Regions from separate parts of the Homo sapiens genome. Here region 1 is linked to region 2. The links come from fine-mapping of genetic effects on gene expression. A gene starts in region 2. The other region holds a variant in brackets. All regions are shown on one strand. Distances are from middle to middle.

The links.
Region 1: its variant is fine-mapped to the expression of C8orf34 in cerebellar hemisphere (GTEx, PIP above 0.99). The same link has a PIP of 0.9 or more in cerebellum.

What each region holds. Positions count from the first base shown.
Region 1 is chr8:68,380,940-68,386,323 of GRCh38, forward strand. The region is part of intron 1 of C8orf34 (chromosome 8 open reading frame 34); the gene reads left to right. Among named protein-coding and RNA genes, the nearest start is that of C8orf34-AS1, 52 kb to the left of the region's middle. The variant G/C (reference allele first, on the strand shown) is at 2,767.
Region 2 is chr8:68,328,812-68,334,195 of GRCh38, forward strand. C8orf34 (chromosome 8 open reading frame 34) reads left to right here and starts at 2,144. Exons shown (of 14, transcript NM_052958.4): 1 at 2,144-2,528. The coding sequence starts at 2,202. It overlaps C8orf34-AS1 (C8orf34 antisense RNA 1), which reads right to left and starts at 2,680. Exons shown (of 3, transcript NR_038877.1): 1 at 2,496-2,680.

The sequences.
Region 1 (5,384 bases), 52 kb after region 2:
AATAAGTTAGATGATAAAATATAAGCAAAAAAATGACAGTGAGATAAGTTGTCCTAGAGAAAAGAAGCTTTGAGGTGACAGAATTTACAATTAAGAATACTAGAGGAAATCATCAGAAAGCACAGCTTGAATTATTTTGTACAAAATAAGGTTAATGAAGGAATACTTCAGTGTTCAGTATTTTTTCATGAATATTTTAAGAAGTACAAGAAGCTTGACTATTGTATTATCTGAAGCAGGAAGACTAGACTATTTTTCTTTAAAAAGGGAAACCAGTAAACTTCATTGATCTGCATTCAAGTGCTCTACTCTAAGTTTATTCCAAAGAACCTATAGAGGTTAACTCAAGCATGTTCTAGTTAATCCACTAGATGCTTACATCTCATATATGGCTAGTATTGTATTTTCGGGTTTGCAAATGTTGCTTTTGGAGTACTCTGTTATCATTACAAGATTCCCACCACTTGTATCTAATGTTTACAACACACATCATTTAAAATAGGTATATTAAGGCCGGGCGCGGTGGCTCACGCCTGTAATCCCAGCACTTTGGGAGGCCGAGGCGGGTGGATCATGAGGTCAGGAGATCGAGACCATCCTGGCTAACAAGGTGAAACCCCGTCTCTACTAAAAATACAAAAAATTAGCCGGGCGCGGTGGCGGGCGCCTGTAGTCCCAGCTACTCGGGAGGCTGAGGCAGGAGAATGGCGTGAACCCGGGAAGCGGAGCTTGCAGTGAGCCGAGATTGCGCCACTGCAGTCCGCAGTCCGGCCTGGGCGACAGAGCGAGACTCCGTCTCAAAAAAAAAAAAAAAAAAAAAAAATAGGTATATTAAATGGCTTACAAATTGAGGATGATGTGTGTGCATTCCATTTATTTTTTCTTTTAAAATGACTTAAATACCTATAGATTAAAAACAGAAAGTAAAAATAATCAAGAAAAATGTAAAAGTTCTCCAGTGCTCCTTCATAGACATAACTTTTGTTAACATTTTGATACATATTTTCCAGTCTTTTAATGCACATATATATTTGGTACTTAACAAAATTCAATCATATACAAATAGTATTGCAACCTGAAATTTTCAATTAGAAACATAGCGGACATAAGAAATTTCATTGATAAGTTTAGTGGTTTTCCATTCATGATGTATTCCATAAGTACATGATAACATATTTTATCTATTTCCTATTGTATTGAATATTTATATTTTGCATCTTTGCAGTTATAACCATTGTAGTGGTGGATAAATACGTAGATCTGATTACTTCCTAGTAATTCTTGTTGATTAAATTGCATATAAAATGATGTGCACAATTTAAGACATTTCACATATATTGCCAAAATGCTTTCCAGAGAGATTTTTACAGTTTACAATCTTGACAGTGTTATAGGTTGCTTTTTTCTCTGTATTTTTGCCTCTGTTTCCTCATCTGTGATACAGAAATAATTATACAATGAACTAAAGTAAATTAAATTAGAAATTCAGTCTTCATTCTCACTAGCCAGATTTCAAGAGTTCAAAAGTAACGTGTACCTACTGTGTTGAACACAGCAGACCTAGAGTACTGCTCTCATTGCAGAATACTTTTGCTGGACCAATGGGCCTTAGGTTCAGAAGCATTTCTATTTCCCATCATTCCTGGCCTCCCATCTATTCCACACAGTAAGATGCTGCCATCCCTTGGCCCCTGTGACACCATGCTCCCTTAGTTTTCTTCCAGCCTCTTCAGGCCATTTCTTCTCAGTCTCCCTTAGGAACTCCTCCACCTCCACCTGCTCTTTAAAAGTTGAACATTCTCAGGACTCAGTCCTAGATCTCCTCTTTTTTTATTTTATACTTTCCTTTAGAAAGATTCTATGGATTCCAACACTTTCTATTTGGTTGGAATAGAATTCTATTTGGCAATTCTGAAATTTATATTTATATTTATATCATATCTTCTGATAGGTCTACTTTGCATCCGTGCACTGGCATCCATGCCAGTTTCATCCTCCTGGGAGAAAGGGGGTTCCTCAGACAGGAGCTAGAAAATGAAAGCTCCACTCTCATGATCAGAAGAGTGCTGTCTTTCTTTTGGCCTAGACATTGAGTCTGCATATCTAGGAGGTTATATATTGTAGCATAGGTTAAAGATAATGTCAGACCAAGAATTAGGAAATCTGAAAGTCAGGAAGATGTGACCGTCATCCTAGGTCCAGCACACACTTGAGAGTGAAATTATCTGGGGTCATTATCATGGCCATGTTTATATTCTTTATTTACATCCTAGTTTCTAGTAAAATTTTATTGAAAATTCTGAATTTACTTCAACTGTACGATGTAGAGCACATTAAGAGGGGAAACATTTGCCTAAATTTGGGCCATGATGTTAACCATAAAACTGTGTCCTCTAGCCCCATTTCCCCATTTCCTACTTCAGATCCCTGTGATGGTGACTGGTAATGTATGAGCTGTTCCATAGGTCTGTCTTGCTTGTTCAGACAATTTCCCCATCATGAAATTTTTCTTCCAGCATTAATATTTAAAGTTCATAGTTTTCATGTGATTGAAATACATATTCCCTTCAAGGTCCCTGCTGGGAGAAAGTATACTCGGGTCTAGAATGTTTCTCTAAGGTTTCAGGTCCAGTATATACATCTGCATCTACAGTGTAAGAATGATGAATAAGCTTCTAAGTTATCACATCCTAATTTGTGCTTCGAGCTGTACAGTGTGCAATAGTGCACCCTTCTGGAAAAATATTAGAAAAAAACTACATCCTC[G/C]ACTGCAGCCCATCCTGATTATTTATTTTGACTTGTGCTGAGAATTGCTCATTTCCTCTCTGCAGTCACTGGCATCTCCATGACTGTCTTGTGCCAATGTGTCCAGGAGAATAGCCTGGCACTGGCCAGGTGCTGAAAAAATACTCCTTGAGCTAAAGAACCCATGTTTGTATCATTAAGCAGTCTAAATGAGACAATGTAATCTCCCTAATAGGGTGGGAGGAAGAGGATTTCTGTTCTGCCAAAAGAAACATACAGGATTTTGGTATAGATGCTGGTGAATTTCAAACTGTCTGCCATTCAGATGTGTGTCCTATTTAGGAGATACTTAACCACACTACCCTTTCTCAGAAGACATGATAGGAAGGAAAGTTTTACCCTTTTAACAAAATGAACTAAAATGAAATGCTTTAGAGGTGAAAATTTGGCTCTTTCCAATTCTATTTTCTAAGACTATTATTTTTAAATTTTGTTTACATCTAAAGTCAATGTCAATATAGAGTTCTCAACCCTCTCCTTTGAAGTTTCAATAGGTTCCTTCGAGAGTAAAATGACAGCAACAGCAAAAACAGTAGGTCAAAAGAACATGTATCAATGGCTTTTGCCAGTTTAGTGTTGAAAGTACTAATATCTTGCTGTTTGCATCACTTCTTGATTTGCTGTCTGGCCCAACAATATGTTTGGAATGCAGGGCAGTCTGTTTGATATATATGGCGCTGGCCTCTGCTTCTGGGTCTGCGCTTTTGTTGCCAAGATATTGCTTTACTTGTTAAATAAAAGAAGACAAGATTAATTGGTTAATAGTAAAACTCTAGGCTGTATGATTAAATATTGTACAACAACAAACATTGTGTTTTTAAGAAGTGAGGAGATGCATAGTAAAAGCCAGGGTGAGTTTATTCCATAAGGGCATGGTTTGCCCTCTGCTGTTGCTGATTGCTCTCAGATTAATCAGGCTAAAACTGGTTGTTTAAATACATAAAATGCTTTGACAAGAAAAGTGATCCAGTTGGTACGTGCAGGCTTAACTGTTATCTCCACTCAGCCAAAGGTTTTGTTCTCTCTTGCACTCTGCATATATTTTGAAAGATTGGAAATGTAGGTTCTAATAATAACATGATGGAACCAAGCTCATGGTGGGAGCAGATGGTGAAATTTTAACAGATGACATGAGAGTGTAGAGTGATTCAACCTTTATTTTGCTGATAGATTTTCTATCAAAGAGGATTAACTTTACACACCAGAAAATAGGGTGTTCTTGATTAAGAAGAAGCTGAAAACGAAGGAACGAAAAAAATATGCAATATGCTTTTAATGAGTTTAAAGTCTCTTGGCTCAGTGTGGTTATATCCTTGTGAATGTAAACAACTTGAATTGAGGTCACAGAACCATGGAGTGTCCTCTTTAATTAATAAGCCAATACCTCACCACAATTACTATGTGACAGTCACGGTCTAAGCACTGGGTATTATTTGATCCTTACCTCAACCTTATGTGGTAATTTTGTCAGCCTCATTTTAGTGATAAGGACATGGAGGCACAGAGAGGTTAAGAAACTTGTCCAAGGTCACACACCAAACAAATGGAGGAACAAAGTAGCAAACCCACATACTTTGATACCAGTATTCATGCTCTCAATCCCCACACTATACTTGCCAAGCTGACAGATGTGCCTAAACACTGGAAACAGGAATAGCATTTTTAGTTTTCAACATAGAAAACTAGGTATATTCTGGAATCAACAGAAGATAAGATTAATTGACCTATAATAAAATTATACAATTTGTGATTAAATGTTGAATAATAAAAAACAGTGAGTGAGATATATGCTCCATTGAATCCAGTGTGAGTTTAATGAGAACAAATCATTCTACACCAGCTTAATCTTTGCTTCTGATAAGATAACCAGGCTCACAGATAAGATCCATGTAGGAAACATAGCTTATCTGAGATTTTTTTTCCAGACAATTGGAAAAGCCTTTCATATACACAACACAGATTTGTATAAGATGGAGAAATGTGGAATTAGTGATAGTGCAGCCATTTGGATCTTATTGAATCCCCCTGCCCATGAGGATGGATTGATGATTGGTATGAGCCTGGAGGACTGTCCCTAGTTGTTTGCTAGTGCCAGAACATGGCCTGTTCAGTATTTTTACCAAAAACCTAGATGATGAAAAATCAGCTTTATTTTACTTATTTACTTATTTTTGAGACAGGATTTCTCACTGTTGCCCAGACTGGAGTGTAGTGGCGTGGTAATAGCTCTTTGTGGTCTCAACCTCCTGGGCTCAAGTGACCCTCCTACTTTACCTCCAGAGTAGCTGGGACCACAGGCATGGCCCACTAGTCCACCACACTTGGTTAAGGTTTTGACTTTCTATAGAGATGAGGTCTTGTTGTGTTGCCCAGGCTGATCTTGAATGCCTGGGCTTAAGCATTCCTCACACCTCGGCCTCCTAAAATTCTGGGATTACAGGTGTGAGCCACCCATACCCGGCCTATTTATTTTGAAATACATTAAAACAAAACAAAACAGAGCCTGAACTTGGCATGAATAATATGAAGCTTTATAGGGATAAATCTGAAGTTCAGCATTTAATTTAGAATATTCCAAA
Region 2 (5,384 bases):
GAAGTGCTTTATGAAGGAGGTGATATTTAATGTTGGCCTTGAAAAGCTTTGAAAATACTCCCTGAATTTTAAATGTGCAATTTTGGGATGCTCAGAGTTTTAACATACATAAATGGGTATGCATATCCTCATGTTGCTCTTCTTTCTTTGTCTCTTGCTCTCTTTCTTCCTTTCTTTCTTTTGACTGAGTCTTGTTGTATGGCCCAGCCTAGATGCAGTGGCACACTCATAGTTCACTGCAGCCTCAAACTGCAGCTCAAGGGTCCTGCTGTCTCAGTTTTCCCAGTAGCTGGAACTATAAGTGTGCACCACTATGCCCAGCTAATTAAAAAAAACAATTTGTTTTAGAAATGGGGTCTTTTTATGTTGCCCAGTCTTGAACTGCTGGCCTCAAGTGATCCTTCCACATAATTGGGATTACAGACGTGAGCCTTTGTACTTGGCTTCATTCTCTCTTTAAAACATACACATTTTGCCAGCTGAAGCTTTGTCTCTTCTATTCAAAGCCCTAAGTGCAATAGTCTGAGCATGGTGAAGACTTAATAAGTGTCTTTATTTCATTTAAAGAAGCATCCTCCTGATGCCTCTTAAAAGAGAAAGACTCTTGATTTCAGGAAGCGTACCATCTTGGTACCTTATGTGGTATCAAAAATAGTAGGCTTTTTAGCTGGGTCATAGATGGCCTTCCTTATGGCTCTACGCTATACCTTTTAGCAAATAGAAATGTTGGTATTCACTCTGTGTATTTAATTTCTCCTGGACACATTAAAAAATACATAAGTAAATATACCTTCGAACCAAAATGGAAAGCACGAGGCAACCCTGGACACCTCACTGCTATTTAACTTAACCCTCCCTAGGCAGATCATATGAGTCCGATTGTAAAAGTATTAATGTGGACATCTTTCCACTCTGGATCAAGTCCATTTCAGGTTATCAGGGATGGTTAAGCTCCTAGCTATTCTAGCAGATTTCTTATGTCTTAATGCATGAAATTAATAATAGTTCCTGGGATATTCCACACTTATCTATTACATGTTTCCACATATTTAAAATACAGAAGGAAAACATGAACACCAATAAAGAAACTATGAGTAACAGAAATCCAGAACACAGTGAAGAAAGAAAGAAAAAAATATATACTGCTGCAGTCAGCTTTTAGGAAAACTGTTTCCATCATTCTGAAAATTTATATTTATTAGAAATAAATCTAATTTTGGCAGCACATCATGGTTAGGAGCCAGGGAAATTGTCATTGGGACCTTAGTATTGTATTTCACAAGAAAGAGAGCTCTGTGAGGAAGCCTGGGCTATCTGCAAACCTTCGACTCGGAAATCCCTGCATAATAAGAAAGGTATTGGCTAAATTTGAGCAGCTCACGCAGTATCTAGAGGAAACATTATGAAGTGGGATAGTGTGGTGTCTGAGATGCAGTTATAGGTATACAGACATGACTCAAGGCGTGGATTAGGAAGGCCAACTTTGGAGGGGAGGGCTGGCTCGCTCATTTCTCTTCTCCCTGTCAAATGCTGAAAGGCTGGTTCCAGCCTTTGAGCTCCTGCACTTTGAGAGTTTTCAGCTGGGTTCTCAGGCTGCGTTCACCCGTCGACTTGCTCCAGGCCAAACCAGATTTTGAAAAGGAAGGCAACTTCTTTTTCGCGGCAAACCCTTAAACCCACGCACCTTCTCAAAACTCTGCCCTTCTCAACCCCTGCGCTAGAGTAGGCAGGGCAGAAGGTGCTGAGGAGAGGCTCAGAAGGGGCGGTGGGGACGATCCCCTTTCGAACTGCATTTGTAGCTGCCAAGGAGTAGCCAACAAGCACCAGATTTATGTGCACTTTGAAAGAAGCACCTTCACCATTGGCTTTTTAAGCGGCGCTGTCGCTAGGGAGCGGCTGGTAGGGCGAGCAGCCTCGGGGAGCAGCCCGGGCTGTTTGTTCCGTCACCGGGGAAAGGAGGTACACACAGTCGCGCGCGCACGGACACACACACACACGCACGCACGCACACACACCGGTGGCGAGTTCGAGCCCCGCGGCCCCTGTCCGCCCGCGTGCGCCCCTCGACACAGCTCGCCTCCCGCCCCCTGATTCCTGCTGCTGCCGCCCAGAGGAGAAAGGAACCTCTGCCTCGAATTTCCCCACTGCGCCGGGCGCTGCGGAGAGCGGCGAGGGTGGGCGCGAGGCGGAGAACGCGATGAATGAGTTCTCCCCTCGCCTCGGAGTTGTCTGAGTTGGCGGCGCTGCGCCCAGGCTTCCGGCTCTCAGCGCCCCACGCGCGCGTGGCTCCCCGGGCTGCCACCCACGCCCGCGGCCGGGGCCGAGCCAGCCACGCAGGGCAGCCGAGGCTCCGGAGCTCCTGTCCCGGCCCCAGTCCGGGTAAAAGGAGGGTTGTCCCCAGCGGAGGCGCACAGCCGCGCGTTCTCCCTGCACTCTCTTCGCGGTCCCATCTGTTCCCCATGGCGTCTCATCCGCAAACCCGGATCCAGGCTTACCTGGAGAAGAACAAGATCGGTCCCCTGTTTGAGGTAAGGCGCTGTGGAGGAGGGCAGTCCCGTTGTCTTTAGGGGAAGGGGTGCAGTAATGAAAACAGAACACTCCCAATCCCACCCCTCCCAGGGAAGGAGGGCTAGAGAACCAACGCGCGGGAGAGGGCGCCCTGGGATTCACTGGCATTCGCTCTGTCCCGGCCAGGTGTCCTGGAACGCGGCCGGGCGGGCACTTAGCCAGTTACCTGAACGCGGACAGGTGAGCTCGGGAGGGCCCAGCCTCAGCCTGGCAGGGGAAGTTTTGGCCCTCTGACTGTCCTGCACCTCTCAGCTACATGTTCAGGACCCGGGCAGGCTGAGGCAGGCGACGCATACGGATGCACACACTCAGACTGTGTTGCACACGCACACTTTCTTTTTTGAATTCACGCTATCTTGAGTGTTCGTGTTGGATTTTCTTTTTTCTTTTCTTTTCTTTCCTTCTTTTTTTTTTTTTTTTTTTTTTTTTTTTTAATGAGGGCGGTAATAGAACCCGAAAAGGTGGAGGAGGTGCTTAGCAGTTAATACAATTAACTGGAAGACAGCTGAACTGGTGAGGAGTAGGCTTCAGTCGGTGCGGGCGTGATGAATGAAATTGGCAAACTGAGAGACTGCCATTTGGTCACTGGACGAAAGGAGAGTCCTTTGCACTGCAGACCCCACATGTGTTAGCAGGAGAAAGGGACGGAGAAAGGTTCTGAAAAGCACACACGTATTTGTGGAAGAAGACTATAGCTCTGAGCTGGTTTTGTTTTTTTTTCTCTCTCTCGCCATTAAAGAATTTAAGACAAAAATACAGTAGAAGGAAGAGCGCGAGGACACGAGAAAATGAGAACAAGAGATTGAAGCCTGGCACCAGCAAAGCGTCCCGCGGGTTGCCAGGGTGCTGAGCAGGGGTGGGGCGTGCGGACCGTAGTCAGAAGTGGAGGCCCTTGCGGAGGGACTCCCTTGGTCCCATCCAGTTCAGGGGGCACTGACCGGCGGCGAGAGTTCGCGGGAGGGTCGAGGTGCTCCCGCCTTGCCCCCGCCTTGCCCCCGCCTTGCCCCCGCCCCCCACGTCTCCCAGAAGCAGTTGTAGCTGTTCTTAACAGCTTGGTTTGGGGTGAGGGCTTGGTATGGGGAGGAGGTTACGTGTCAGTGTCTGAGAGAGGCAGAATCGCGGCAAGTGGAAGGGGCTGCACTGGAGATCGCGGAAAACCTAGCAAAGACTGAAGAGAAGCAAGTGAGAACTGTGGAGAACAAAAAAATAATGCGAGTTAATGACCCTGCAAAAAAAGGGCGCGGAGGACAAAGGTGTGGTCCAATAGGTCTTTTGGGAGGACGGGTTTCACATAACAAGATTTGCAAGATCTCCTAAGTTTTTTTGCCCAACTTTAACGTTGATCTGTCTTAGACGATAAGACCATTGTTTCAATTGAAGCTCGCATTGTGGGGTGCAGAGTCCTACAATTGCTTTGATTCTTTTTTCTGCCAAAAATGTTAACAAAGGCAATCCATGCAAGAGCGAAATAAAATTGATGGAACTACCAGATTTCTTTTCTTTGCCTTTAGTTTAATGATTATTGATTATACATAATCCTATATAATTTTTTTAAAGGCAGAAGCCTAAAACCTTCTGCAACGCAGTGTATTAATTGCATCGAAAGAATCATAAAATACATACATTTAGAGTGTGTGTTTTCTCTCTACTCTCCTGGAGTATAAAGTACAATTAGCCTGGGAGAATAAATGAATTGTTTTTAATAAATACTGTTTTAATTTGTTATCTTAAAATCCCCAAGATTTTAATAATAATAAAATTAGGAATATATGTAAACTTTCTGCAGAATTAGAAAATAAACTCAAATGGATATTTATGAAGTGCCCCCTAACCCCCACCTTTTGATGCTCACCAGCAAGTTATGCGCTGAAGAATTTTAAGTGATAGCAACGTGTCTCATAAAAGCTTTAGGTCCCCTCACCAAAAAACAAGCACCACCATGCTTCGTATTTTATTGAATACATATGACATACACTGGCATTAGCTTAGATTGCAGTGATGAGTAGTGCATTTTTTAAGGTTTGATGTCCACTTTAAATAATTGAAGGGAGAAAAATGGATAATAAATTCTCTTTTAATAAAAGCTGGATGTAACACAGTTCCTTATGCAACAATTTTGATCATGATAGAGCTTGACTTTGAGAGTACAATTATACGTATTTCACAAAATTGGAAGATTTTACTAGCGTGTAGCCTACTTGTTTCATGTTAGAAAACCAGTGCCACCTGTGAAATGGACATTGTTGACCTAGAGACCGTCCATTCTCTTCTAGGACCTTACTCAATAGTTTTCACAGGAATTGATTTGGGTCAGAGGAGGTGCCCAGCAATCTGAACATATTTAGAAGCAGCACAAATGTTTGCTACAATTTTAATTTCTGGGCCACATTTTGAGAAACTGAGCTAAAATCTCCTTTTACCACTCACAAATTGAAATTGGCCGCTTCATGTCTTGTCATCTATGCTTTGTTGTGTTGAGTCAGTGTAGCTGACACAGGCTTCTTTCAGTTTGGAAAATATGCGGTATCTGATAATATGTCCCCCTTGTGGATAGTTTAAGTTAGGAATGTTTTAAGAAAACTTAATTGGTATGAGATACTTTAAAGATAATCTATGAATGTTTTTTAAAACAATAGCAAAAAGTAACCTATTCACTGATATTGAGAATACTTGATCCTCTTTTTTACCTGTAGGGCTTATTTACCTAGTTTGTTCACTTAGTTTATTTCTTACTTAGTTTATTGCTAATATTTTATGATTTGAGATGCTTATTAAAGTGTTACATGCAGTATGGTGTTTCAAAATTTATTTTAAAT